Linked DNA regions of Homo sapiens. The protein of the gene in region 2 purifies or fractionates together with the protein of the main gene of each other region. This does not show direct contact. Each region holds a gene or a part of one and is shown on either strand. Other genes may lie near its edges.

Region 1 (5,331 bases), on a different chromosome or scaffold from region 2:
GGCAACAGAATGGCTTGAACCCGGGAGGCGGAGGTTGCGGTGAGCTGAGATCGCGCCACTGCACTCCAGGCTGGGCAACAAGAGCGAAATTCCGTCTCAAAAAAAGAAAAAAAAAATGTTAGCAACTGCTTTTTTTCTAGTTTTCTAGTTCTAGTTAGCAACCGTGAAGTAACTGTACCTTCACATGTAGTTGTAAGAAATGGCACAGAGCAGGCTGGGCGCAGTGGCTCACACCTGTAATCCCAGCACTTTGTGGGGACCGAGGCAGGCAGATGATGAGGTCAGGAGTTCGAGACCAGCCTGACCAACATACTGAAACCCCATCTCTACTAAAAACAAACAAAATTAGCTGGGTGTGGTGGCACGCGCCTGTAATCCCAGCTACTCAGGAGGCTGAGGCAGGAGAATCGCTTGAACCCGGGAGGTGGAGGTTGCAGTGAGCAGAGATCGAGCCACTGCACTCCATCCTGGGTGACAGAGCCAGACCCCATCTCAAAAAAAAATAAATAAATAAAAATAAATGACGCAGAGCAATACCTTGTCCCCCTGCTTCCAGGGGTTCCATCTCACAAAACTATGAACAGTATCACAGCCAGGCTCTCCCACCACGACGGTCCACCAAGCTCCCCGGGGTCATCCCATGACACACGCGCAGTGTGTGCCCACCGCAGCTGAGGCAATCCAACCACAGGCTCCCTCCGGCTGTCTCCTTCCCCCATCCTTAACCCCTAGCAACCACGAATCTGTGTTCCATCTCTTTAATTTTTGTCTTTAGAGAATGCTGTATAAAAAAAAAATCATACGGCATGTGATCTTTCAGCTCGGCCTTTTTTCACTCCGTATAATTCCTTCTGGGTTCACCCGCGTTATCAGTGAGCGGGGCCTTTTTTCCACTCCGTGTAATTCCTTCTGGGTTCACCCGCGTTATCAGTGAGCGGAGTCTTTTTTCCACTCTGTGTAATTCCTTCTGGGTTCACCCGCCTTACCAGTGAGCAGGGTCTTTTTTCACTCCGTGTAATTCCTTCCAGGTTCACCCGCGTTATCAGTGAGCGGAGCCTTTTTTCACTCCGTATAATTCCTTCCAGGTTCATTCGTGTTATCAGTGAGTGGTGCCTTTTTTCACTCCGTATAATTCCTTCCAGGTTCACCAGTGTTATCAGTGAGTGGTATTCCAAGCAAATACTTTTCGGGCAACCACTACTTACAATCATTCTGCACGGCTGGCAAAGCTGTTTCTAAGCCACATTCAGTATCGTTCTTTCATTTAAGGAGGTGGCAAAAGAATCTTCATCTGAACAGACGCCATGCAGTTCAGCATCAGACCAGGGAGAAGGCCTGCCTGAGGGCCGGGACTGTGTTGTGCCTGTCTGATCAAGTCAGCAGTCCTGAAAATCCACACAAACCAACTCCCGCCGAAACCACAGCAGAGGGCCCAGGGGAAACCCAGAATAGGTTCTCACAAGAAAGATTATTTGGCTCAGTAAACAATTATCCTCTAACGCAAATTTAACAGACATTATTTTCTCCAAGCAAACTATAGTTCAACCCAAAACAGAATAAACATAAAACAATCACTTGGCCGGGCGTGGTGGCTCACGCCTATAATCCCAGCACTTTGGGAGGCCGAGGTGGGCAGACCACAACGTCAGGAGATCGAGATCATCCTAGCTCACATGGTGAAACTCCGTCTCTACTAAAAACACAAAAAATTAGCCGGGCATGGTTGCGGGCACCTTTAGTCCCAGTTACTCGGGAGGCTGAGGCAGGAGAACTGCTTGAACCCACGAGGTGGAGTTTGCAATGAGCCGAGATCGTGGCATTGCACTCCAACTTCGGCAACAAGAGCGAAGCTCCATCTCAAAAAAAAAAAAAAAAAAAAGACGACGACAATTACTCAGATGCAGGAGAGACACGCATGTCAGCTACACGCAGCCTCATCCATAAGCAGATGCAGGGCCCAGGAGAGCAAAGGGCATGGTGACTGCCTGCCCTTCCTCACGCCAGGGCACCTGCCAATGCAGCAACGACTAGGATTTCACTGGACAAGCACCTACCACATGCCAGGAGTGATAACCAGGAAGCTGCCATGGCTTTGCCTTGCCATGGCAACGGAGGCTGCCATGCCATTCCTTCCAGGAACCATGACAACGGAGGCTGCCATGCCATTCCTTCCAGGAACCATGACAACGGAGGCTGCCATGCCATTCCCTCCAGGAACCATGACAACGGAGGCTGCCATGCCATTCCTTCCAGGAATCAGAGTTATTAGTGGGGCACACGTCCCTGGTTAACCGTAACACAACACACAAGGCTGAATGCAGAATCCGCACAGGCCACACAATTCTTCCCTCTTCTATGACAGGTGACCCTTCAGCAACACAGGAGTGAGCTATGTATGATCACGGACACGTGGATTTTCTTCCACCCCTGCTACCCAAGACAACAAGACCAGCCCCTCGTCCTCCTCCTCAGCCCACTCAAGGTGAAGGCCATGAGGATGAAGCTCTTTATGGTGATCCGCTTCCACTGCATAAATAGGAAATATATTTTCTCTTACGACTTTTTTCTTTTTTCTTTTTTTTTGAGACAAGAGTCTCGCCGTCGCTTTTTTCTTTCTTAATTTTTTTTTTTGAGACAGAGTCTTGCTGTGTCGCCCAGGCTGGAGTGCAGTGGCGCGATCTCGGCTCACTGCAAGCTTCGCCTCTTGGGTTCACGCCATTCTCCTGCCTCAGCCTCCCGACTAGCTGGGGTTACAGGTGCCCACCACCACGCCTAATTTTTTTTTTTTTTTGTATTTTTAGTAGAGACAGGGTTTCACCGTGTTAGCTAAAATGGTCTCGATCTCCTGACCTTGTGATCTGCTCGCCTTGGCCTCCCAAAGTGCTGGGATGACAGGCATGAGCCACCACGCCCGGCCTTTTCTTTCTTAATTTTTTATGTTTGAGACAGAAAGGTCTCACTCTATTATCCAGGCTGAAGTGCAATGGCACAATCTCAGCTCCCTGCAACCTCTGCCTACCAGGTTCAAACGATGCTCACGCCTCAGACTCCGGAGTAGCTGGGATTACAAGCACGTACACCACACCTGGCTAATTTTTTTTTTTTTTGGTATTTTTAGTAGACAAGGGGTTTCACCATGTTAGCCAGGCTGGTCTCGAACTCCTGGCCCCAAGTGATCTAACTTTCTTCTTTTATTAAAAAAACGAACGGCCGGGCGTGGTGGCTCACACCTGTAATCCCAGCACTTTCGGAGACCAAGGCGAGTGGATCACCTGAGGTGAGAAGTTTGAGACTAGCCTGACCAACGTGGCCAAACCAGGTCTCTACCAAAACTACAAAAATTAGCTGGGCTTGGTGTTGCATGCCTGTGATCCCAGCTATTCGTGAGGTTGAGGCAGGAGAATCACTGGAACCCAGGAGGCAGAGGTTCCAGTGATCTGAAATTACGCCATTGCACTCTAGCCTGGGAAACAAGAGTGAAACTCCAGGCTGGGCACGGTGGCTCACACCTGTAATCCCAGCACTTTGGAAGGCCAAGATGGGCAGATCGCCTGACATCGGGAGTTTGAGACCATCCTTGCCAACATGGTGAAACCCTGTCTCTGCTAAAAATACAAAAAATTAGCTGGGCGTGGTGGCGCACGCCTGTAGTCCCAGCTACTCGAGAGGCTGAGGCAGGAGAATCGCCTGAACCCAGGAAGCAGAGGTTGCAGTGAGCCGAGATCGTGCCATTGCACTCTAGCCTGGCGACAGAGCGAGACCCCATCTCAAAAAAAAAAATAATAATAATAATAGTAATAATAATAATAGAAATGAGGGTCTTAAACTCCTGGGCTCAAGTGATCATCCCACCTTGGCCTCCCAAAGTGCTCAGATTACAGGTGTGAGCCACCGCACCTACCCAGCAAATTTTTTTTTATAAAAAGGTCAGCCGGGCGTGGTGGCTCACACCTGTAATCCCAGCACTTTGGGAGGCCGAAGTGGGGAGATCACGAGGTCAGGAGTTCAAGACCAGTCTGGCCAACATGGCAAAACCCTGTATCTACTGAAAATACAAAAATTAGCTGGGCATGGTGGTGCATGCCTGTAATCCCAGCTACTCAGGAGGCTGAGGCAGGAGAATCGCTTGAACTCAGGAGGCAGGGGTTGCACTGAGCCGACATCGCACCACTGGACTCCAGTCTGGGCAACAGAGCGAGACTCCGTTTCAAAAATAAATAAATAAATACAAAATAAAAGTTAAAAAAAAAAAAGGTCCAGGGCTGGGTGCGGTGGCCCACTCCTGTAATCCCAGCACTTTGGGAGGCTGAGGCACGCAGATCACGAGGTCAGGAGATTGAGACCATCCTGGCTAACACGGTGAAACCGAGTCTCTACTAAAAATACAAAAAATGAGCCGGGTATGGTGGCGGGCACCTGTAGTCCCAGCTACTCGGGAGGCTAAGGCAGGAGAATGGCGTGAACCTGGGAGACGGAGCTTGCAGTGAGCTGAGATCACACCACTGCACTCCAGCCCAGGCGACAGAGCGAGACTCCGTCTCAAAAAAAAAAAAAAAAAAAGGTCAAGGCCAGGCACGGTGGTTCACACCTGTAATCTCAGCACTTTGGGAGGCCAAGGTGGGTGAATCACCTGAGGTCAGGAGTTTGAGACCAGCCTGGCCAACAAGACAAAACCTCATCTCTACTATACAAAAAGAGGGCCTGACGCGGTGGCTCACGCCTGTAATCCTAGAACTTTGGGAGGCCAAGGTGAGCAGATCACAAGGTCAGGAGATCGAGACCATCCTGGCTAACATGGTGAAACCCAGTCTCTAATAAAACAAAAAAATTAGCCGGGTGCGGTGGCGGGTGCCTGTAGTCCCAGCTACTAGGGAGGCTGAGGCAGGAGAATGGCATGAACCCAGGAAGTGGAGCTTGCAGTGAGCCGAGATTGTGCCACTGCACTCCAGCCTGGGCGACAGAGCGAGACTCCGTCTCAAAAACAAACAAACGAACAAAAAACAAAAAATTAGCAGGGTGTGGTGGTGAGCACCTGTAATCCCAGCTACTTCGGAGGCTGAGGCAGGAGAATTGCTTGAACCCGGGAGGGGGAGGTTGCATTGAGCTGAGATCGCACCACTGCACTCCAGCCGGGGCAACAGAGTGAGATTCTGGCAAAAAAAAAAAAAAAAAAAAAAAAAAAAAAAAGTCAAAGGACACACTTTATTGAAATGTTGAAGTATACAGGGAAAGAGCCCTGAAATCAATTCAGAACAATTTTGTATGAAGATTCAGAAGTCTTTTAGAAGATAGTTCTGAGTGGCTGTAAGCATTGACACTTACCGTAAAACC
Region 2 (2,226 bases):
TGCTGTGGTGATTTCTCAGACCTAGACAGAAATACTATTAGACCCAGCAATCGCATTACTGGGTGTATGCCCAAAGAAATATAAATAATTTTATTATAAAGACACATGCACAAGTATGTTCATTGCAGCAATATTTATAATAGCAAAGACATGGTATCAGCCTAAATGTCCATCAATGATAGAGTGGATAAAGAAAATGCGATACATACACACCATGGTATAGTATGCAGCCAAAAAAAAAAAAAAATCACAAAAAAAAAACAAGATCATGTCCTTTGCAGAGACATGGATAAAGCTGGAGGCCATTATCCTTACAAACTAACACAGCAACAGAAAACCAAATACCGTATGTTCTCACTTAAGTGAGAGCCAAATGCAAAGAACACATGGTCACATAGAGGGGAATAACACACACTGGGGCCTTTCAGAGGGTGGAAGATGGGGGAAGGGACAGGATCAGGAAAAATAACCAGTAGGTACTAGGCTTAATACCTGGGTGATTAAATAATCTCTACAACAAACCCCATGACACAACTTTACTTAAGTAACAAACTTGCACTTTTACTCCTGAACTTCAAAGTTAAAAAGGAAAAAGAATTTCTCATTTCAATCTTTGCTTTTGATTTTTAGAGTGGCAGATATCTGCCTCAAACTTATGTGGTTCGAGAAGACCTAGTTGCTGTGGAGGAAATTCGTGATGTTAGTAACCTTGGCATCTTTATTTACCAACTTTGCAATAACAGAAAGTCCTTCCGCCTTCGTCGCAGAGACCTCTTGCTGGGTAAGTAACTAATGTATTCCTTCCTTCACCCTGTGTTACACAGTGGAAGAAAGTGGAGGTAGAATACAGGAAAAAGTGGGGAACAAGTCTGGATATATTTTCATTTCCACAAAAATTTCAAAAGCCACTTTTTTTGCACATTTCCTTACAGGTTTCAACAAACGTGCCATTGATAAATGCTGGAAGATTAGACACTTCCCCAACGAATTTATTGTTGAGACCAAGATCTGTCAAGAGTAAGAGGCAACAGATAGAGTGTCCTTGGTAATAAGAAGTCAGAGATTTACAATATGACTTTAACATTAAGGTTTATGGGATACTCAAGATATTTACTCATGCATTTACTCTATTGCTTATGCTTTAAAAAAAGGAAAAAAAAAAACTACTAACCACTGCAAGCTCTTGTCAAATTTTAGTTTAATTGGCATTGCTTGTTTTTTGAAACTGAAATTACATGAGTTTCATTTTTTCTTTGAATTTATAGGGTTTAGATTTCTGAAAGCAGCATGAATATATCACCTAACATCCTGACAATAAATTCCATCCGTTGTTTTTTTTGTTTGTTTGTTTTTTCTTTTCCTTTAAGTAAGCTCTTTATTCATCTTATGGTGGAGCAATTTTAAAATTTGAAATATTTTAAATTGTTTTTGAACTTTTTGTGTAAAATATATCAGATCTCAACATTGTTGGTTTCTTTTGTTTTTCATTTTGTACAACTTTCTTGAATTTAGAAATTACATCTTTGCAGTTCTGTTAGGTGCTCTGTAATTAACCTGACTTATATGTGAACAATTTTCATGAGACAGTCATTTTTAACTAATGCAGTGATTCTTTCTCACTACTATCTGTATTGTGGAATGCACAAAATTGTGTAGGTGCTGAATGCTGTAAGGAGTTTAGGTTGTATGAATTCTACAACCCTATAATAAATTTTACTCTATACAACCACTGTTTCTTTTATTTCATCACTTGAGATATAGTCAATGTGAATAATTAATATTACTTATTTAGCTTTTGGTGTACCTGTAACAGATCTAAAATTATGAGGCCAACTTTGCCCCCATTCCCACCTACACATATTTATATGTTATATTTTCATATTTCACTCCCTTTTGACAGTATATTAATTACTCTTTTATAAACATCCCATAATTGGCTTATCATGTAAATTCAACTATTTATTTAGAGGCTTCAGGCGCATAGCACTTTAAAATCTTTTGAAGTGTTTTCTTTCTCATCAAATTAAACAACTATACACAGCTATAATGGATCACTAAGGACTAACCTTGGATAAGATGTTGATAGCTTTTAAGAACTTCAAATGCTGTGATCATTACTCATGTATCTAAGAGTCTAAACTTCATACCAAGGGGACATGAGTACTATAAACTATTTCCCTTGTATTAGGTGAAAAATCGCTCCTGATATCCCTTATTACCTGCTGG
Region 3 (4,404 bases), on a different chromosome or scaffold from region 2:
CCGAGGCTAATGCACCTCTCACCTATCACTTTCTAACAGCGTGTGCTGCTAGCTGAGGTGTCACTGAACGGCCAGGCTCTGGAAGCTCTCATGGAAAGGCCATCCTGGGGTTTTAAAGGCTGGAAGGTGGTGGATGGCTTCTAACCACACAATCTAAGCCACAATTTCACTACCAACACTTAGGAAAAACACTAGTCACAGATTTTGAGTGTTTTCCACCCTTTATTCTGGTGGCTGGCAAGCTACCTTGAGAATAAAAAAGGCCATTCTTCAAAAGCAGCTGTCCCTCCAAGCAGTGTCCCTTCCTGGCTTGGGCAGACATTTCCCTCTGCTTTCCCTGACTTTTTCTGCCTGCTTTGTAAATACCAGAATTCTACCATACAGAATGGAAACAGGAAGAACGAAAGTGGAATTCCCGTCTGTCTACTCTGTAGCTTATGAGAAGCAAGACCGATATGGGATAAGAAAGAGGAGAATCAAAATCATGGGTCAGCTAAACAATGCTCTATGAATTTAAGGCAGCCATAAGCAACAAAATTTAGACGCACCCAAGAACATAAGAGAAACTTTCCTGGGTGTGGGGAGGCAGGCTTGGGTGCCTTAGCCATGAACCGTCTGCCGCACAGCAGAGGCAATCACTGCTGGGCGTGGTGCTCTCTGTGGTTTGACCCACCTCTACTTTTAACCAGCTGCAGAGACAAAAGCCAGCAATACCTTTTTCTGCGGGAAGGCTGCCAGCCTCATTCAGGTGACTGGCCGGTGCACTCAAAGGGCGCTCACTGTGGGCCAGGATGCCTTCCACGTTGCTGACTTTGCACCCAATTCCACAGCCTGGCACTGCCTGGAAGTCCGTGCAGTATCCCAAGGTCTCTGTTCCAAGTTCCTGGGAAGGTGGAAAGAGAGGAAGAGGAAACTGTAAGCCAAGAGGGGTGAAGTGAAAGGGAGGGGCAGGCAGGACAGGGACACAGGGTGAAGGTGGCAAGAGAGCAGCGGAAAGCGGGAACTGAGAGAAAGGAGGGGAGGGAGGTGGAACAGATAGGAAAGGTTAAGATAGTGACTAGTAACTTGTAATTATTTCTCCCTCCTTTGGTAAAGATATTATAGCTGTAAGTTGAATGAGACTATTTTAAACAGCCTAAAATCCTTCCCTGGGTGGGTGCCTCATGACAGTGAACAGGTTACCGACTGGAAAGGAAAAAGGCAACTCATATCAAACACCTCAAATTAAAGAGGACTGCAGATGCCAAAGAGAGGGAGATGTGAATTTTATGTTGCAAATAATTTCATTAAAAACAATGGAATAAGTAGTGTTAACAAAGCTCTTTGAGACTATCAAGAGATAACTGCCTGTATATCAGACCCTGGAGGAGGAGGGGACAAGGTGGCAGGGTAAAGGAATGGCTGGGGTTTCTGGACTGCCCGTCCTCCCCCAGGCTGTGAGCTCCCAAAGGGTAGAGTTCACATCCCACTTCTGTTGTTCTCCTGAGCCTGACGCCTGGTGATGTTCAGCAAATGGCTGTGACACCGACCTCACTTTATGACAACCTAGAACTGTGGCAAGGGCTGACTGTGAGCCCCTCATCTCCACTTGCTGCAGAGGACCCTTCTAAGCGGTTTTCCAGACCACACAACAAATAAAGGATGACTGAGGGTGAGCAAGATTCTCCCTGAAATGTCAGAAGGGTGAGGTGAGAAAGAGTGGGCTGTCTGACCCTACATGAAGGACAAAACTAGAAATGAGGTTTCTGGAAGAGCCCCTGATCAGGAAGAGTTGTCAATTGTTTTTCAAGGCAATGATGTCACCTTTCTACATTTACTGCTAACAGTATTGCTCAGGCTGTTTAAAAGTTGTCAGGGCAATATTCTGTGTGACGCGTTCTGCTGCCCCTATATTCAGACTGAAATTAAGAGAAAACAAAATAGAACCTTTCCTGTGGAGAGACCAAAAGAAGGCAATGCTTCTCCACGAAGTGCCAGGAACCTGCTGGGCACTCTGGCTCACCTCTGCTGGTTCCTCTCTGTCCCAGGTGCTCCCAGGGGAGTAGATTTCTCCCTTCCACCCCAGTACTCCCATTTCATGTTTGTGTCCCCTTGCACTAAGCACTGTCAAAGCACTGAGTTTCCAGACTGCCCGTACTCCCCAAGACCGTGAGCTCCCAAAGGGTAGAGTTCATATCCCACTCCTGTTGTTCTCCTGAGCCTGGCGCCTGGTGATGTTCAGCAAATGCCTGTGACACTGAACTCCCTTTGTGATAACCTGGAACTGTGGCAAGGGCTGACTGTGAGCCCTATATCTCCGCCTGCTGCAGAAGGGCCCTCTAAGTGGTTTTCCAGACCACACAGAGAAGGCTCCTCGAGGGCAGCTAGGAGAGAAGGACATGGTGAGGAATAAAAGAGCATTGGCGGGGAGGGCAGGGCCACGCCCAAGTCCACGTACCTCTTTACAGTATTTGGTGACTGCCACGCCCAAGGGGTGTTCACTGCTGGCCTCCGCAGTCCCCACCACAGCCAGAACCTTCCTGAGGGGCAGTGTGGCCACATCCCCCAGCAGGAGCACCCGCATGACCCTGGGGACGCCATGGGTAATGGTGCCAGTCTTGTCAAACATCACAGTCTTTATCTGCCAAAAACAACCACAACTCACTGACCACAATACAGATGGAGGGGCTTCCATAGTCACACTCCTGAGGCAGAACTTCACCCAACCTGCCTCAGACAGGAAACAAGACACCTGCACAGCTTCCTAACGTGATCCTCTGTCGTTCAATCTCAGGGTTCAACAACTCCCACTGCAAAGAAACTGTTTCCCTATGTGTCCAGTCAAACCAGCCACACTGAGGCTTGACCTTGACCAGGCAAAGCCAGAAACCCTCAGTCGGCTGTACAGGAGATGGCACAGCACTGTCCCCCAGACAGTGACACCATCCACATACTCCCCCACATCAGGTCAGGAGTCAGGACCCTGAGGGACACCTGCCTCCCTGTCCACTGCCATCCGCCGAGCCCAACCTCAGCTTCCTTTTGCCTGCCTAAGTGCAAAAGCTACTGGGAATAGAGTCCTCACACTCTGAGTTCAAGAAAGGAAAGGACTATTCTATGGCCATAATGACAAACAAACCCCCAGAGCCAGTTTTAAGTTGGTCACACTTAGTCAATGGCAGTCTGCAGAGTCCCCACACCTCTGGGCTCAGATATGGGCAGCAGCTACATTCAGGTACCTGCACTTCCATGACCAGGGCCAGTCGAGCCCTGAGCCCTGCTTCTGAAAGTCCAGTAATTCCTGAAGTGTATAATTTTACCCATTTAAGGCCAGCAGGTTGCTCTTCTCAGACCATGTCCCACAAGCAGGGTTCTCCCTTACAAGCAAACAATAATTCAGCTTTTTGTTTCTGATGCTGAGCGGTGGCCTTCCTTCCTTCAACACACTTAACTCATCTTCCTCCAGGGATTCTTGCCAGCTTTCAGCGCAACCTTAACACTGCAGCCGGAATGATCTTCCCAACACACGATCCAGTCACATCACGTGGGTATGCCATCCCCTACGTGGCTTCTAGGCTAACGTTCAGAACACTTTACTAAATCTTCAGCCTTTGGATTCTGGCCCCTCCCTCAACGGCCTCATCTCTGGTTCCTCTCTCTCAATGATTTTCTTCCAGTTCCTCATTTGCTCATTCAACAGATAACTTCTGAATGCACTTGATGTCTCAGGTTAGATGCTGGGGATACCGCGGGGAGGGGAAGTTCCACCTCCACAGGTGCTTTCCACCTTCTGTCCCCATTTTGGAACACTCTTCCCCAGCTCCGTTGTCCAGCTCTCACTCAACAGTAAGGTCTCAGATGAACGTTCGTATTCGCTTCCCTGACCACCTGCAGCACCCTTGTCCCTGAGTCGAGCACCCCAAGTCTAGGATTGGCCCCTGTTCAAGTGTCCCCAGGACGTCAAGCACCACCAGTCAATACTCAGTATCTCGTAATACTCAGTCAGCTTTGCTATTTACTTTTTCACTGTCTGTCTTTCCCCCTGGTGGGCTCCTTGGCGGCTGGAAACCATGACCATCGCCAGAACCCAGTGCAGGGCTCACACGCAGTGAGTGCCCAGCAAATACTGATTAAATAGGTGAAAGTGTGGAAGGCCAGAGGTTAGTAAGTTGGGCAAAAGGAAGACTCTTCACAAACACCGTCACTCACTCTTCACTCCCCAGGGTCACAGGACCCACCACTAATCCCACAGATGTCACGGTGGGGCTTTTGTCCTGAAGCCTGGCTACCTGGGTGTGAATCCCAGCTCTGCCTCTGGTTAGCTGCAGGCGTTTGGTCAAGTTACCTAATCTCCTCCTGCTGCAGTTTCCTCATCTGTAAAATGGGAATGATAAGCACCTACCACACAGAGTTGTTAATGCAATT
Region 4 (5,331 bases), on a different chromosome or scaffold from region 2:
CAGGGCCAGCACCTATAATGGCAAGTGAAGGTGAAGAAGACGAGGAGCTCATCTTATGGAAGTGAATACACTGTGCCCAGTGAAAGCTGACATTTCAACTAAGGGAGGATTTCCAAGTCATTAACAAACTGTTTCTCTTCCCAATCTGTGATGTTTTTCCCAAACCAAACTTCTTTACCACATTTACGAATTTTAAAATTTTATATATATGAAATTTTATATATATGAAAACTATATATATATAGTTTTGTTTATATTGCCCAGGCTGGTCTTGAACTCCTGGCCTCAGACAATCCTCCTACCTCAGGCTCCCAAAGTGTTGGGATTACTGGCATGAGCCATCGTGCCTGCCAGGAATTTAAGGGGTTGGTCACTGAATCTCTGATGCAGCAGGGCCTTTCATTTTATTTTTTGAGATGGAGTCTTGCTCTGTCGCCCAGGCTGGAGAGTGTAGTGGTGTGATCTCGGCTCACTGTAACTCCGCCTCCTGAGTTCAAACCATTCTCCTGCCTCAGCCTCCCAAGTAGCTGGGATTATAGGCGTGCACCACCTCACCCAACTAGTTTTTGTATTTTTAGTAGAGACGGGTTTTCACTATGTTGGCCAGGCTGGTCTCAAACTCCTGACCTCAAGTGATCCGCCTGCCTCAGCCCCCCAAAGTGCTGGGATTATAGGCGTGAGCCACTGTTCCTGGCCGGCAGGGCCTTTTAGAAACTATTTGTCCTAGTTCTTCCAGTATAGGGAGGGCTGGTCAAATCTCTCTCAGGCCAGAGGCCACTGAGCCTCATTCTGAACGGCTTCCTTTGCAAGGTTCCAATGGAAAGTTTAGCTATTCATTCTCCCAAAAATATTTACTGAGCACTTAGTATATGTCAGGTAATATAGACAATATTATTGCCCTCATGGAGCTTATATTCCAGTGGGGAAGACAGAAAACAGATATATTATGACAGGTATCAACAAGTGCTATATATTAAAAAAAAAAAAAAAGATGAAAAGGGGACAGAGAGAGGCCAGAGTGGGTAGAAGCCAGGCTCCATCAGACAGGTTGGTCAGGGAAGTGCCAACTGAAAAGGTGACATTGTTATGACAGGAAATGGGGTCAGAGCATCCCAGGTAGAGAGACTACAAGTGCAAAGACCCCAGGATGGGGAGTGACTGGATCTGATTTGCATTTTCAAACATTATTGGCTGACGTGTGGACATCTGCCTGGAGGGTACAAGAGTGGAATGGAGCAGAGAGACTAGTTAGAAGGCTGCCAGGGGGGTCTCGCTGGGAGACGATGGTGGCTTGTTCCAGGGTGGCAGTGGTTAAAAAAAGTGAGAAGTGTGTGGATTTGGGATATTTTTTGAAGGCTGTGTAAACAACAATCCTTACAGTCCAGGATATTCTTTTTTTATATTTAAGTCATTTTTTTCTTCGCTCTTAAGACTATAAAGGAATCTGAAAAGCCTAGACACACAGGGAAATTATGTTTTATATTTTCAAGTTACATGATTGATATGTTTTCCTTCCATATCCAGATACCTTTTACAGATGAAACAGCCCTAAATTTAAAGCTACTGATTCATTCACCTGAGAAGGTGTAATGAATACATTCCCTGAATTTCTAGACTTTTTAGATACTTTGTATAATAACTCTTCCTACTTTATTGAATACATGTAACTTAGCCTTCCCGATTCCCACCAATCCATTTCCTCAATACTCTGTACTTCCCTACTGTTTAATTGTTATCCTTGCTCCTTCCCAAGACCTCCAAAGACTCACCCTGTGTGGAATGCTTTAGTAGGGACAGTCACTCTTCCATATTCTGTGCTTCTGTAAAGTGACCCAGTCTATCCCAGACGCCTGGCTAAACTGTGCTCATCCTTCAGGTCTCAGCTGAAATGTTACATCTTAGGGAAATCTTCTCTGACCACTAGGACAGGCTGGCACATCTGACAATTTGGTGCTAAAGTGCCCTGGACTAATACATCATATTAGTATGATTACCATCACAGTCACTAATCAGTGTTTTTTTTTTTTTTTTTTTTGAGACAGAGTTTCACTCTTGTTGCCCAGGCTGGAGTGCAATGGCATGATCTCGGCTCACCGCAACCTCTGCCTCCCAGGTTCAAGTGATTCTCCTGCCTCAGCCTCCCTAGTAGCTGGGATTACAGGCATAAGCCACCATGCCCGGCTAATTTTGTATTTTTAGTAGAGATGGGGTTTCTCCATGTTGGTCAGGCTGGTCTTGAACTCCGGACCTCAGATGATCCGCCCTCCTCGGCCTCCCAAAGTGCTGGGATTACAGGCATGAGCCACCATGCCCGGCCCAGTATTTGTTAAATGAAGAATAAGTTCTCAATGTTACAGGGCAGATGTCTAGTCACCCTATAGTAAAATGAATCATGATCCTTCTATTGTAATAACAAGCAGAGGCAAAGCCTTAAGTCCTTACTTCCTCTGTCGATGCGACCGTTTCACAGGGCAGAGTTCATGGAACAACTTCTGGCTGGTGAGCCTGGCTGCCAATAGATATTTGTTTCGGGTGATGAAGTCGTCAATGATTTGCTTCTTCATACCTCGGGCCTAGAGAAAAACCAAGAATCAGCTAGATTTTATGCAGTGTTCTCAATGCAAATAGATGGGCTTTCTTTACTTACCAGCTTAATAAAAACGTAGCTGACCTTGGCTAAAGTAATATAACCAAACAAGACAGACCTGTTTGAGCGAATAAACATGTGGTGATCTATTTCAGCAATGCAGGGCTGAAAGCAATGATGCAGCTATTTCGGGTCAAAGGGAAAATCAAGTACACTTTCCACTGGAGAATTTTTATTCACTGTTTTATGCTGACAAATTAAAAAAGTCAGTCATGGCCGGACGTGGTGGCTCACATCTGAAATCCTAGAACTTTGGGAGGCTGAGGTGGGTAGATCACGAGGTCAGGAGTTTGAGACCAGCCTGGCCAACATAGTGAAACCCCGTCTCTGCTAAAAATACAGAAATTAGCCAGGCATGGTGACGTGTGTCTGTAGTCCCAGCTACTTGGAAGGCTGAGGCAAGAGAATCAGTTGAACCTGGGAGACGGAGGTTGCAGTGAGCCGAGATCACGCCACTGCACTTTAGCCTGGGCGACAGAGCGAGACTCCATCTCAAAAACAAAACAAAACCAAACACAAAACAAAACAAAAACCCAAAACGAAAAGTCAATCATTTTGAATTTTAGGCAAAATTATTTCCATTCAGGATTTGTAGCGAACTGGGCAATTAAAAATAAATCCCAAAGCAACAATGTTGCAAAGTATAAAAGGCAGGTTACAAAACCGTGTGACCATTTTATTGCTAACTTTCACACATTTCAAAGGATTGAAATCATTGACAGCAGGTATTCTGACCACAAGGTAATTAACCTAGAATTCCATTTAAAATGCAAACCAGAAATGTAAACATTTCCCTTTATGTTTGGAAATTAAGAAACACGGCCAGGTATGGAGGCTCATTCCTCTAACCCAAATGCTTTGGGAGGCCAAGGCAAGAGGATCCCTTGAACCCAAGAGTTAGAGACCAGCCTGTGCAACATGGAGAGATCCCATCTCTACAAAAAATTAAAAACAAACAAACAAAAGGCCAGGCACAGTGGCTCACTCCTATAATCCCCGAACTTTGGGAGGCCGAAGCAGGAGGATTGCTTGAGCTTAGAAGATCGAGACCAGCCTGGGCAACATAATGAGATCTTGTCTCTACTAAAAATAAAAAAACATTAGCCAGGCATGATGGTGGTGCATGCCTGCAATCCCAGCTACCTGGGAGGTGGAGGTGGGAGGACTGCTTGAGCCCAAGACTTAAGAGACTGCAGTGAGCTAGGATCACACCACTGGACTCTAGCCTGTGTGACAGACTGAGACCCTGTCTCAAGAAAAAAAAAAAAAAAAAAAAAAAAGGGCTGGGTATGGTGGCTCATGCCTGTAATCCCAGCACTTTGGGAAGTCAAGGCAGGTGGATCACTTGAGGTCAGGAGTTCAAGACCAGCCTGTGCAACATAGTGAAACCCTGTCTCTACTAAAAGTACAAAAATTAGCCAGGCGTGGCCTTAGTCCCAGCTACTCAGGAGGCTGAGGCAGGAGGACTGCTTGAGGCTGGGAGAGCATACCAGCCTGGGCAACGGGAGTGAAACCCTGTCTCATAAAAGAAAAAAAAGGAAAAAAAAAGTTGTTAGCTGGGCATGGTGGCATGTGCCTGTAGTCCCAGCTACTTGGGAGGTTGAAGGGTGAGGATCACTTGAGCATAGGAGGCCAAGGCTGCAGTGAGCCATGATGACATCACTACACTCCAGCCTGGGTGACAGAGCAAGACTGACTAAAAAAGAAAAAAAAAAAACCAAAACAAGAACGCCTATCAGATATTAGAAAATATTTTGAACTTTAATGACTGATGAAAAATACTATTTATAAGAACTCTGAGATACATATAAAGTAGTACTTGAAGGGGAATTTTACAATTAACATAATAGAAAAGAAGTTAATGAAATAAACATCTGTCAAGTCAAAAACAGCAAAAATATAAAAGTAGAAAGGAAATAATACAGATAAAAATAGAAATTAATGAAACAAGAAATGAATATATTAATATAAGAAGAAGAATTAACAAAGACAAAACTGGTTCTTTGAAAAAGCTAATACAATCGACAAGCCTCTGGTAAAACCAACCATGAAAACAAAAGAGAAGGCATAAAATAATCATTCTCAAAGATGACAAGAAGGAATCACTACCTACAATGCAGAAGTTAAAACAGAAAACCTAAATAATCAGTAGTCAAAAATCTTTCCTTAAAGCGAAACCCAGAAACCCAAGCTCAAGGCCCAAATGGCATTACAGATGCTTTCAATCAAACTTTCAAGGAAGACAATCTCACATAAAGTCTTCCTGAGAAGAGAAAAAGCAACACATGGGTATCACGATAAGGAAAAGTTAGAAGTCAATCTCATTTCTGAACATGAATGTCAAAGTCCTAAGCAAAATGTTAGCAAATGGAATCCAGCAATATATTGAAAGCATAATAGAAATCATAATCTTGTTGGATTTATTTCATGAGTGCAAGTTAGGTTTAACATTAGAGAATGAATTAATATGAGTTAGCACAATATAGATTAAAGAAGAAAAATCAGAATAATCTAATGGATGTAGAAAAAGTATTTGATAAAAATCATACCAATTGTGGTTAGAACTTTTAGTCAACAAGGAGTAGAAGGACCTTCTTTAACCTGATAAAGGGTATCCACATTTTAAAAGCCTTCTGCAAACACACTTATTGGGGAAATGCTGAAAGCCTTCCCTCTCTTTGAAA
Region 5 (5,331 bases), on a different chromosome or scaffold from region 2:
AAGTGGCAGCAGTAAACACAAATATACATGTCACAATAACGTACAGTAATTCAACAGTAGGAAAGATCTCGTGTGGTTGGGAAAAATGTTGGCATCTTGGAAGATAAGATGTTATCTGGGCCTAACATAGATTTCAGGAGAGGGGACAGCATTCCAGACATTAAACATGAACAAAAGATTCAGATCTTTCTGACATCTATTATGACTGAAATTCCTTTAATGGGAAATTAAAGTTTTTTATTCTACAGTGACTCACATGCAAAATATCCTTGAGAGTAGTTACACAGTGAAAAGATAGGAACCTTCAGTTTCTAAGTAACAGCTAGATCCTTTCCTGTTCCCAGTGGAAAGGGCTTGGAATGCCTCTAGTGATCCTTGCAGACCTTCAAGAGGAAGAATATAAAAAGAGGATCCAGAAGTGAAATTTTGCCTCAGTTTACTTCCAGCAAGGCTTGATTAAATTCTGTCAGGGGGAGACTTGAAGAGGATATTCTTAATCAGCAATGGTTTACCACGTGATTTTATCAAGATATTTTAGAGTGTGTAGTTTGATAACAAGTTCTAATTCCTGCTGGTGATTTGTTGAGTAAATACGGCTGGTCCTTTCCATCTATTTTGCAGCATAATAATACATATAATACAGATAATGTGTCATGTGAAATGGCATAATGGAATAATTTAAATTAAATGTATTTCTTTTGCAGCATTAGCAAATATTTGTTGCAGAGGAGACACAGATGAGCAGCTCATTAAGTACCTAACCTCCCTGCCTGCTATTGAAACAAATTAAAATGATTATTTAGATACTTTAACTTTGAATTAAAATGAGGAAAGTTATGCTTTAGAACAGTAGATCCATCTTTGTTTAAAGATACCCTATCTGACCTGGCCTTATTACTCAAATAAGACATTTTAAAATCTTAACTCATATTAAACATCTAAGAATGTATATTTTCTTTTTGTTTCATGTCAGATGGGTAATGTGCCTACCTCATAACAAGGTTTGAGGGAGGCACATCTCACACCTGAGTGTGAAAACCCAGTCATCCTGCTTATGAGCTACAAAAGGATCCTTGTATTTTTTTATAATCTGATTTTAACTCAGAATATAACAGTATACCCATATGAACCTTGTATAAAACAGGGTAATTCAATATTCCCAGCTCCTGTTCGACACAGTGGAGACCATGGGAAAAGACTATTTGTCATCAGACCTTCTAGATTCTATGACAGGCGTTTTTTGAAGTTATTGGTAAGTTTAAATTTTTTGTTGAATTAAAGTCTTTGCATGTAACAGGGAAAAAATTTTTGCCTCTTTAGAAAACATCTTTCATTTTATGAAATATTTTATTTTGTAAATTTATATTTCTTTCTGTAGAAGATACTGAGACTGTAAAGTCTGATTTGTTATTGAATTTCTCTTTAAATTAGTGAAGCTTTCCTTCTTCACAAAAGGATTTACACTAAATGGAGGTAAAACTTGAACCATTCCTTTCTTCTGAAGATTATGGCGTTTCGAAATAGAATCTGTGTTCCTATAACTAAAATATTCTTTAAATTACCAAAGAACTTGTTGAAAGACTTGCTTAAATAAAGGAGCTACATTATTTTGGGATATGATTTTATATTTATATGTTGTTCAGGAACATTTATTTCAGAGAGTAACAGGGATCTATAGTGCAATCTTAATTTAGCAATAATATAATTACATTGCTTATTTAGAATGCTGACTATATTTCTGTCTCAAGGCTCTATACGAACAAAGTAGAGGCTTAGAAAATGGGAGATTGTCTGGACCATCTGCCACGGTAGATAAAGCTCTGAATCATCATTTGAGTACTGACCTTAAAACTTTCTCTTGCCCTTCCGTTGTGTTTAATGACCTTTTTCATCTCCTTGGTTGAGCCCTTACTTTTCTTGTTATGACCAGCTCAAATCCTATTTAGTGGTAGAAATCACCCTGATGCTTTTAGACTTTTGTTCTTAACATATTATTTTCTTTCATGGCATTGCTTTACCAAAAAGTAAAATCACAGAAATCAATAATTTGGTACTGTATGCCCAATTTGGCAAGTTTATTTTATAAGAAATATGAGGAAATCATATCATGAGGATGATTTGTGTGTGGGGAGAGTTACGAAATGGTCATGAGAAACACTTTTTTTTTTATCTTAGAGATTCTACATTGCATTGACTGGGATTCCAGTAGCAATTTTCATAACTCTGGTGAATGTATTCATTGGTAAGTCACTTCCATCCCCTGCCAGCACCACCAGATTGGAAAAATTTTTAAACATATGTACATTAATATAAAAAAGAAATTATGGATATTGTAATGAAAAGCTCTTTAAATAATTAAGCATAAGCATGGCAGTTTATCTTAAAATAACCAAATCTCAATCTGAACTAAGAATTTTTTAATCCATCCTAGAACATATAAAACTATAATCCTCGGCCAGGCACAGTGGCTCACGCCTGTAATCCCAGCACTTTGGGAGGCCGAGGCGGGCAGATCATGAGGTCAGGGGTTCGAGACCAGCCTGGCTGACATAGTGAAACCCCGTCTCTACTAAAAATACAAAAAACTAGCTGGGCGTGGTGGCAGGCGCCTGTAATCCCAGCTACTCGGGAGGCTGAGGCAGGAGAATGGCTTGAACCCAGGAGGTGGAGGTTGCAGTGAGCTGAGATGGCGCCATCGCACTCCAGCCCGGGCAACAGAGTGAGACTCTGTCCCCCCCCCAAAAAAAAACTATAATCCTCTTACAAAGACTGAAAGTGTCAATGACAGTAAACATTAGATTTTCGTGGGAAATTTTGTTCAAAGTACTTCTAACACCTTGAATCCTAAAATGTTTTGTATCATAGGTATAGGGAAGACCAGAAGGAATAATATGTCTTTTATTATATCTTGTTACAGTATAGAAAAACAAAATGAGAAACTCATGGAATACCTATAAATAATGCCTTACACAGAGAGATGTCTAAAAATGTCTAACAAATGAATTGATTTTCAACCAGATTAAAGTGAATTAAAAATACTACATATCTTCATTGGTACAAATTTTTTAAAGAATCCTTTAAAACCACAAGAAGTTGGTTTCTTACTTTAATGGTGAATAATTAATTTTATAAACTCCTCATGCTAAAGTTAAACATAACCATTTTTTCTTATTAGGTCAAGCTGAACTAGCAGAAATTCCAGAAGGCTATGTCCCAGAACACTGGGAATATTATAAGGTTTGTATAGGACATTGACAATTACATACTGTTACATGCCTTGTCAACGCACTAGTTAATGTCTTAATTCAGCAATTATGATATAGTCAGGTTTTTTGTTTTGTTTTTTTTGAGACAGCATCTCGCTCTGTTGCCCAGGCTGGAGTGCAGTGGCGCGATTTCAGCTCACTGCAACTTCTGCCTCCCGCATTCAAGCGATTCTCATGCCTCAGTCTCCCACGTCGCTGGGATCACAGGTGTGTGCTGCCACTCCTGGCTAATTTTTGTATTTTTAGTAGAGACAGGATTTCACCATGTTGGCCAGGCTTTTCTGGAACTCCTGGCCTCAAGTGATCCACCCACCTCAGCCTCCCAAAGTCCTGGGATTAAATGTGTGAGCCACTGTGACCAGCCATGATAGAGTTTTATATTTCATTTTTTATATCAAGCAGATACATTTTTTTGCATACTTTTTATAAACAACGAATTTTGGTACTTCATTTTTAAAAAAATCATTTTAAGCTTTACAATTTTTTAAAGAATGATTGCAGTGTGTTCTCAGCCTAACAGAGTAACATAATTTATCCTAAGTTCAATGCCTTAGGAGAGACTTCACCAATGTTAATGCTAGCTGTCATTTATTGAGCACCTACTATGTAACAGGTACTGTGCTGAGTGTTTTACAAATATTTATTATTTCATCCCATGTAAAATGTACTATTATTATTCCCTCTTTGTAGATGAAGAAAGTGAGGCTAAAAGAGTTAAGTGACCTGTCTAGATGGGGTCACTATTTCAACCCGGGCAACTTTGACTCCAGAGCCTGAACTGTTGGTCATTATACCATACTGCCACTGCTACCAAAATCCAAAATTAATTTTGTTACTTGTTTTAACAAGTGTTATTGTGAGCCTTGAATGGAGTATATCCCATCATGTTTTATTATCTGAATGAATTATATTTTAAATACAAATCTTAAACCATTAAATCTTAAGGCAGACCTTACACTTAGTTTGTTTATGCTAACTGGTGCAAAGAGCTCCATTTTTGAATTACCAAAACCTGGGTTTGTCTTCTGAATCTGCCACCTAAGATACTCAGCATAGTGTAATGGAAAAGAGTACACAGCTTTGGAGTCAGACAGACCTGGTTTGAGTCCAGGTGCTGCCATTTATTAGCTACGTAACTTTGTGCAATTCACTTATCTTTAAAATGCGGACAAAAATAGTATCCACCTCATCTGTTAAAATTATTTTATATATAGGTATATTAGTTACATAGTAGATGTTACTGGTTTATCTAACTGAAATGATCATTTTAAAGAATAGTCAACTAGAAAAGCAAAGTATTATTCAGAAATGGACTAATATTAAACGAATTTTCTCTTGTAGCATCCCATATCAAGATGGATTGCCCGTAATTTCTATGATAGTCCTGAAAAGATATATGAAAGAACAATGGCCGTCCTTCAGATTGAAGCTGAAAAGGCTGAATTACGGTAGGAAAAACGAGGGGGTAGGTGGGAAAGAAAATCTTCCTAAGGTAGCAAACCACCAGAAAAAATTAATAAAACTATGAATATTTCAGCACTATAGGATACTTTATGTAAAAGGATAAAGATACGTCCAGATGCAGTGGCTCACACCTGTAATCCCAGCACTTTGGGAGGCTACAGAAATTAGCCGGGCGTGGTGGTACGTGCCTGTAATCCCAGCTACTCAAGAGGCTGAGGCAGAAGAATCACTTCAACCTAGGAGGCAGAGGTTGCAGTGAGCCAAGACCATGCCACTGCACTGCAGCCTGGGTGGCAGTGTGAGACTCCGTCTCCAAAGGAAAAAAAAAATGGATAAAGATAGAATTAGCTTGTTTGGAGTGAAAACTATAAACTGGTGACAAGGAGACTATTAGGAGATATGTGTCAGATTAAAGAGTTCTTTTTTAAATTTTTGAATTTTTTTTTAGAGTGGAAGTCTTGCTCTGTTGCCCCAGCTGGGAAGCAGATGGATGGGTATATCCATCCAGTGAAATATATAATGTGGCCATTAAAAAGAAAGGGATATATGCTGTTATGGAAAGCTATGTGGATTTTCTTTCTTATACATTATATTTTATATA
Region 6 (5,066 bases), on a different chromosome or scaffold from region 2:
CTTGGTGCTAGGTCCAGAAGAAACTATTGCCTGCAAGGAAGTTTCTCCCGAACGCAATTTGTGAAGCCCCTGTGCAGATCGGGGAGGGGCTCCTGCAAAAAGCAGAAAACAGCAGCCAAGGACGCTGCCTGGCTGGGCTCCTGGGCCTCCTGGCTGGCCCACCAGAGCCTCACCTGGATGGATATCCAAGGTCAAGAGGAGAGCCCTTGCCCCTGGGTGCTTCAAGCATAGGCATGATCCGGCCTGAGCTTTAGGCGAAGAGGGTGGATGGCCCTTGGCTCACTGAGGCCACTTCTTGTTTGAGGAATTTTGGAATTCCTCAAATTCTGAGGACAGTGGAATTCTAAGGTTTGGGGAGTCCATGTTTCAACAGCTTCTTTTAAAAGCAGCCCGAGGAGAGGAGGGGCGGCCTTCATGGTCTCAGGGGCAGCTGCAGACCCTCGCTGAGGCTGTGGAAAGCCTGTCCTCTCCAGATGGGTCAATCGGTCACAGCGGCTGGGCTGGCCTCCTCATGCCCAGTTCTCCTCCCCAGAGCCCAGGACCAGGGGGTGGGGGTGAGGGGTCGGGAAGTGCTGTGGTCAGGAGGCTGGGAAGGCAACGGTACATGGCCTGGCCAGCAAATCAGCTATAGAAGGGACCCCCAGTTCCCAGGCCATGGATGGGTACTGGTCCATAGCCTGTTAGTAGCTGGGCCGCACAGCAGGAGGTGAGCAGCGGGGCAAGCATGACCGCCTGAATTCCACCTCTCGCCAGATCAGCGGCAGCAGTAGATTCTCACAGGGACGAGAACCTTGTTGTGAACTGTGCACAAGAGGGATCAAGGTTGAGCACTCCCCATGAGAATCTAATACCAGATGATCTGGGGTGAAACAGTTTCATCTGGCCCACCCACATCCGTGGAAAAATTGCCTTCCATAAAACTGGTCCCTGGTGCGGAAAATGTTGGGGGCCACTGAGCTGTAGGATGAAGAGGCTGAGATAAGGGGACACCAGAGGAGTTCTGGGGTTCATGTGGCTGGCAGTGTCTGGTGCGGTTCTGGGGTTCGGGTGGCTGGCAGTGTCTGGTGCAGTTCTGGGATTCGGGTGGCTGGCAGTGTCTGGTACGGTTCTGGGGTTCGGGTGGCTGGCAGTGTCTGGTACGGTTCTGGGGTTCGGGTGGCTGGCAGTGTCTGGTACGGTTCTGGGGTTCGGGTGGCTGGCAGTGTCTGGTGCGGTTCTGGGGTTCGGGTGGCTGGCAGTGTCTGGTGCGGTTCTGGGGTTCGGGTGGCTGGCAGTGTCTGGTGCGGTTCTGGGGTTCGGGTGGCTGGCACTGTCTGGTGCGGTTCTGGGGTTCGGGTGGCTGGCAGTGTCTGGTGCGGTTCTGGGGTTCGGGTGGCTGGCACTGTCTGGTGCGGTTCTGGGGTTCGGGTGGCTGGCAGTGTCTGGTGCGGTTCTGGGGTTCGGGTGGCTGGCAGTGTCTGGTGCGGTTCTGGGGTTCGGGTGGCTGGCAGTGTCTGGTGCGGTTCTGGGGTTCGGGTGGCTGGCAGCCTCCTTGGTACAGTTCTGCGACCAGGGTTTGGGTCTGTGTGCTGGACTGTTCAGCAGAATGAGGGCATTTTTCCTTCCATCTAGGAAGGCCTCAGTTCCCTGATCTTTTTTTTTTTTTTGAGATGGAGTCTCGCTCTGTTGCCAGGCTGGAATGCAATGATGGGATCTTGGCTCACTGCAACCTCCGCCTCCCGGGTTCAAGCGATTCTCCTGCCTCAGCCTCCCGAGTAGCTGGGACTATAGGCGTGCACCACCTCACCCAGCTAATTTTTTAAAAAATATTTTTAGAAGAGCCGGGGTTTCACCATGTTGGCCAGGATGGTCTCGATCTCTTGACCTCATGATCCTCCCGCCTCGGCCTCCCAAAGTACTGGGATTACAGGCGTGAGCCACTGCGCCCAGCCAGGTTCCCTGATCTTTTAAAGCAACCTGTTTCTGCTCTTGGGCAGGCACACTGTGGGCGGGAGTTGGGCAGTGAGCTCGCCATTGCTTGGGATGTGAGCAAGAGCTGTTTGTGTGGCAGCAGGGGGACCTCCTCCATGGGCGGACTCAGGGCTGTACTAATAACAGTGAACCAATTTGGGTGGTTCTGTCCTCCCCAGAGCTTTGCCCAGCTGTAGGCGCCCTCCTTGAGGAAGCCCTCCAGCCCGAGGCCCCATCCCTCACTGAAGGACGCAGGCAGACCATGCGTGAGCCTGCAGAAACCAGGCCGGAAGAGGTCGGAGGGATTTAGTAGGAGTTTATTGCCAGTCTGTGTCTGGGCAGCGGTCACCGGACTTTGTCCTTCCTCTGGGGCATAGGTTTCCTCCAGAGGACCAGGAGGACAAGGGTATTGATAGCAACCTGCACGTGGCCGAAGACGGGGACGCCAAAGCTGCGGTACAGGAGGCCGCCGACCGTGGGTCCCAGAGTTCGGAGCAGTGGTTGTACAGAGGCGCAGAGGCCCAGCATGGTCCCTGGGGGGTGCATGGGGGTAGTCAGGCCCTGGGCAGCTCCCTGGGCCAACTGCCCACTTCCTGAACACAGCCATGGCCTCCCATCTCTCCTGACCCACCCTGACCTCACGGCGCAGTCCGCACCTTGCATAGTCTGGTGAAATACTCCCCTGAACACCCATCCTTTCCACCTGCCAGCTTCTAACCTCCAGTCCCCCACCCCCTGCCACCCGCCCAGCCTTTGGAGCAAACACAGCTCTCTCTACCCACTGGTCTGTTCCCCGAGGACCTCTCAGCCATGCAGGGTGCTTCCCAGGGCATTGGGCTGAGTCTCTTCCCTGCTCCAGAAAGTTTCCAAGCACAGGAGGAGCCTGGGAATGGGACCACAGGTCACCGCAGAAGGCCCCGCCCTGCCAGGCCTGCCAAGGGAGATGGCATCTGTGCCTGGGGCCCGGAACCTCCCGCCCAGGCTGTCAGGGAGCTGGCTCTCACGGCTCTTTCCCAGGGTGCCTGCCACCACCGAGGGCTGGTGATGCAGTGGGGAGGCTAAGCCTGGCCTGTGAGACACCGTTGGGGCTTGAGTTCAGAGTGGGCATGACACCCCCATCCCACGGCCCCTCCTGGCCATCAGCCCTTCCTCCAGCCGCCCCACCCTGCGGAGCTCCTACTACTCCATGGAACTCCCCCTCACAGGGCTGGGAGGGGCTTTGGAAGCCCATGCAGGGCCCCTCCACCTGCCCCTCCTGTCCCCAGAGCAAGACCGAGCGGCTTCCGAGGCTCCCCAGACAGCCCCGACCTGCGCAGCAGCCTGCTCTGTCCCTGACACCGCATCTCCACGCCCCTGTGGCCAGCTACCCGCAGCATGGACGGGCACGTGGGCACTATCTGTGGCTGTTGTCAACACTCGGGCAACAAGGGGGGCAGCACTCGCCAAGCGGGAGGACCCCCCAGGACTCCAGGTGGGAGGACACTGCCTCTGGTCCCGTGCCCAGAGGGTCTCTGGCTCCAGGGACTTCAGAGCCCAGGTCTCCTGGAGTTGGAACTCCCAGGGCTGGTCAGCTGTGATGAGGAGCTGGCCAGGCCCCACCTGGGCTCAGGGCCCAGCATGGAGGACCATTAAGAGCAGCCTCTTCTGCAGACTCAGGGTGCAGTTCCTGCCCCTTCTGTCGCTGGGTTTCCAAGCTGCTGCTGGGAACCAGATGCTGGCTCCTACCAGGCCAGGGGTGGTGTCTGCGCATGACGTGGCCCAATGGCCTGGGCCTGGTCTCCCTCAGCCTCCAGGGGCCTCTTCCCAGCCAGGCCGGGTCCTCATCTCCCCAGGCCTTCCTCTCCTGTGCCATCCTCCTGGCCTCTCCAAAGTGCTGCCCAACCTCCTCCAGGAAGCCCTCCTGGCTCAGCCTGCATCAGCCCATGCACCATGGAGTCACAGTCCCCGAAGGCCTTGGAGGTTCCCAGGCAGCCCTGAGAATAGGCCTGCCCTTTGCAGCCCGGCCACATCCGGGCCTCTAGACCTTGGTCTGCTGCCTCCCAGACAGGCAGGTGGATGGAGTGTCAGATGTGTGCCCTGAGTTTCTGGATCTGCTGCCTCCCAGACAGGCAGGTGGATGGAGTGTCAGATGTGTGCCCTGAGTTTCTGGATCTGCTGCCTCCCAGACAGGCAGGTGGATGGAGTGTCAGATGTGTGCCCTGAGTTTCTGGATCTGCTGCCTCCCAGACAGGCAGGTGGATGGAGTGTCAGATGTGTGCCCTGAGCTTTCTGGATCTGCTGCTGGGGAGGCCTGGAAGAATCTCCAGTACTCCAAAGGACTCCTGAGTCCTTTGACCTCAACCAGCCCACAGGAGCCCCCTGCACTGGCCAGTGTGTACCCACACTGTGCCTGGGGTGGGGCAGGAGCCTGGATAACATCGGGCCCAGGACACCCCCAGTCTGCATGAGCGGCTCTCTTCGGCCTCAAGAAAGAAAGCTGGGTCGGAAGTGGGGACTGGGGGAATCTATGTCTAGGGGACCTGTGTCCCCTGCAGTGGCCTAGGGGATTCCTGGATTTAATTACTGGTATGCATTCATTCACTCCCTCATTCATTCAGGAAGCTCCTGAGCACTTGTGTGCCCCACTCCCCGTGCTGGGGGAGGGCCCAGAAGTCCCCGGGGCCTCCAGGCCTGGCAGGCAAAGTCCTCAGGTGCTTCTCAGGGCCAAGCCAACTGCCACCTGCGGGCAGCCCCCTCCCAGGCCCCTGGCCTGCCCCCAGCTGGGCTAGGTGGTAGGGCAGGAGTCTCATGCAAGACCCAGGCTCCCCACCTTACTCATCCCACACAGACCCCAAGCCCCCACCCCACCCACTCCACTCAACCCACACAGACCCCAGGCCCCCCACCCTACCCACCCCACACAGACCCTAGGCTGCCCACCCCATCCCCACCGGGTAGCTCCTAGGGCTTCCTGGAGGAGGCTGCTCCACTCGCTGGCCACACTCACCTGTGTCCGAGGTGGAGACAGCCTTGATCAGCATGCTGTCGGTGACCACGTTGAGGGTGCAGAGGCTGAACACCAGGCCGGGCACCAGGAGGCAGAAGTGGAAGACGCTGGACATCCAGGCCTGGGACGG

Evidence for each region.
Region 1: the proteins of ITM2A (region 2) and SPG7 purify together in Homo sapiens (affinity purification with mass spectrometry; one large-scale study listed by BioGRID and IntAct). This does not show direct contact.
Region 3: the proteins of ITM2A (region 2) and ATP7B purify together in Homo sapiens (affinity purification with mass spectrometry; 2 studies listed by BioGRID and IntAct, with this or other methods). This does not show direct contact.
Region 4: the proteins of ITM2A (region 2) and DNAJC16 purify together in Homo sapiens (affinity purification with mass spectrometry; 2 studies listed by BioGRID and IntAct, with this or other methods). This does not show direct contact.
Region 5: the proteins of ITM2A (region 2) and NDUFB5 purify together in Homo sapiens (affinity purification with mass spectrometry; 2 studies listed by BioGRID and IntAct, with this or other methods). This does not show direct contact.
Region 6: the proteins of ITM2A (region 2) and SLC67A1 purify together in Homo sapiens (affinity purification with mass spectrometry; one large-scale study listed by BioGRID and IntAct). This does not show direct contact.

What each region holds. Positions count from the first base shown.
Region 1 is NC_000016.10:89,514,165-89,519,495, reverse strand, and holds part of SPG7 (mitochondrial inner membrane m-AAA protease component paraplegin isoform 1 precursor), read right to left. Parts: intron 1-5,331. UniProt on the Homo sapiens protein: Catalytic component of the m-AAA protease, a protease that plays a key role in proteostasis of inner mitochondrial membrane proteins, and which is essential for axonal and neuron development.
Region 2 is NC_000023.11:79,359,884-79,362,109, reverse strand, and holds the end of ITM2A (integral membrane protein 2A), read left to right. Parts: intron 1-630; coding exon 631-781; intron 782-932; coding exon 933-1,021; 3' UTR 1,022-1,726; downstream 1,727-2,226.
Region 3 is NC_000013.11:51,941,672-51,946,075, forward strand, and holds part of ATP7B (copper-transporting ATPase 2), read right to left. Parts: intron 2,621-4,404; coding exon 2,438-2,620; intron 884-2,437; coding exon 715-883; intron 1-714. UniProt on the Homo sapiens protein: Copper ion transmembrane transporter involved in the export of copper out of the cells. It is involved in copper homeostasis in the liver, where it ensures the efflux of copper from hepatocytes into the bile in response to copper overload.
Region 4 is NC_000001.11:15,556,768-15,562,098, reverse strand, and holds part of DNAJC16 (dnaJ homolog subfamily C member 16 isoform 1 precursor), read right to left. Parts: intron 2,574-5,331; coding exon 2,443-2,573; intron 1-2,442. UniProt on the Homo sapiens protein: Plays an important role in regulating the size of autophagosomes during the formation process.
Region 5 is NC_000003.12:179,613,808-179,619,138, forward strand, and holds part of NDUFB5 (NADH dehydrogenase [ubiquinone] 1 beta subcomplex subunit 5, mitochondrial isoform 1 precursor), read left to right. Parts: intron 1-967; exon of another isoform or gene 968-1,071; intron 1,072-1,163; coding exon 1,164-1,252; intron 1,253-2,175; coding exon 2,176-2,242; intron 2,243-3,175; coding exon 3,176-3,237; intron 3,238-4,607; coding exon 4,608-4,714; intron 4,715-5,331.
Region 6 is NC_000011.10:2,922,427-2,927,492, reverse strand, and holds the end of SLC67A1 (solute carrier family 67 member A1), read right to left. Parts: intron 5,058-5,066; coding exon 4,937-5,057; intron 2,484-4,936; coding exon 2,296-2,483; 3' UTR 2,247-2,295; downstream 1-2,246. UniProt on the Homo sapiens protein: May act as a transporter of organic cations based on a proton efflux antiport mechanism. May play a role in the transport of chloroquine and quinidine-related compounds in kidney. Plays a role in the regulation of lipid metabolism.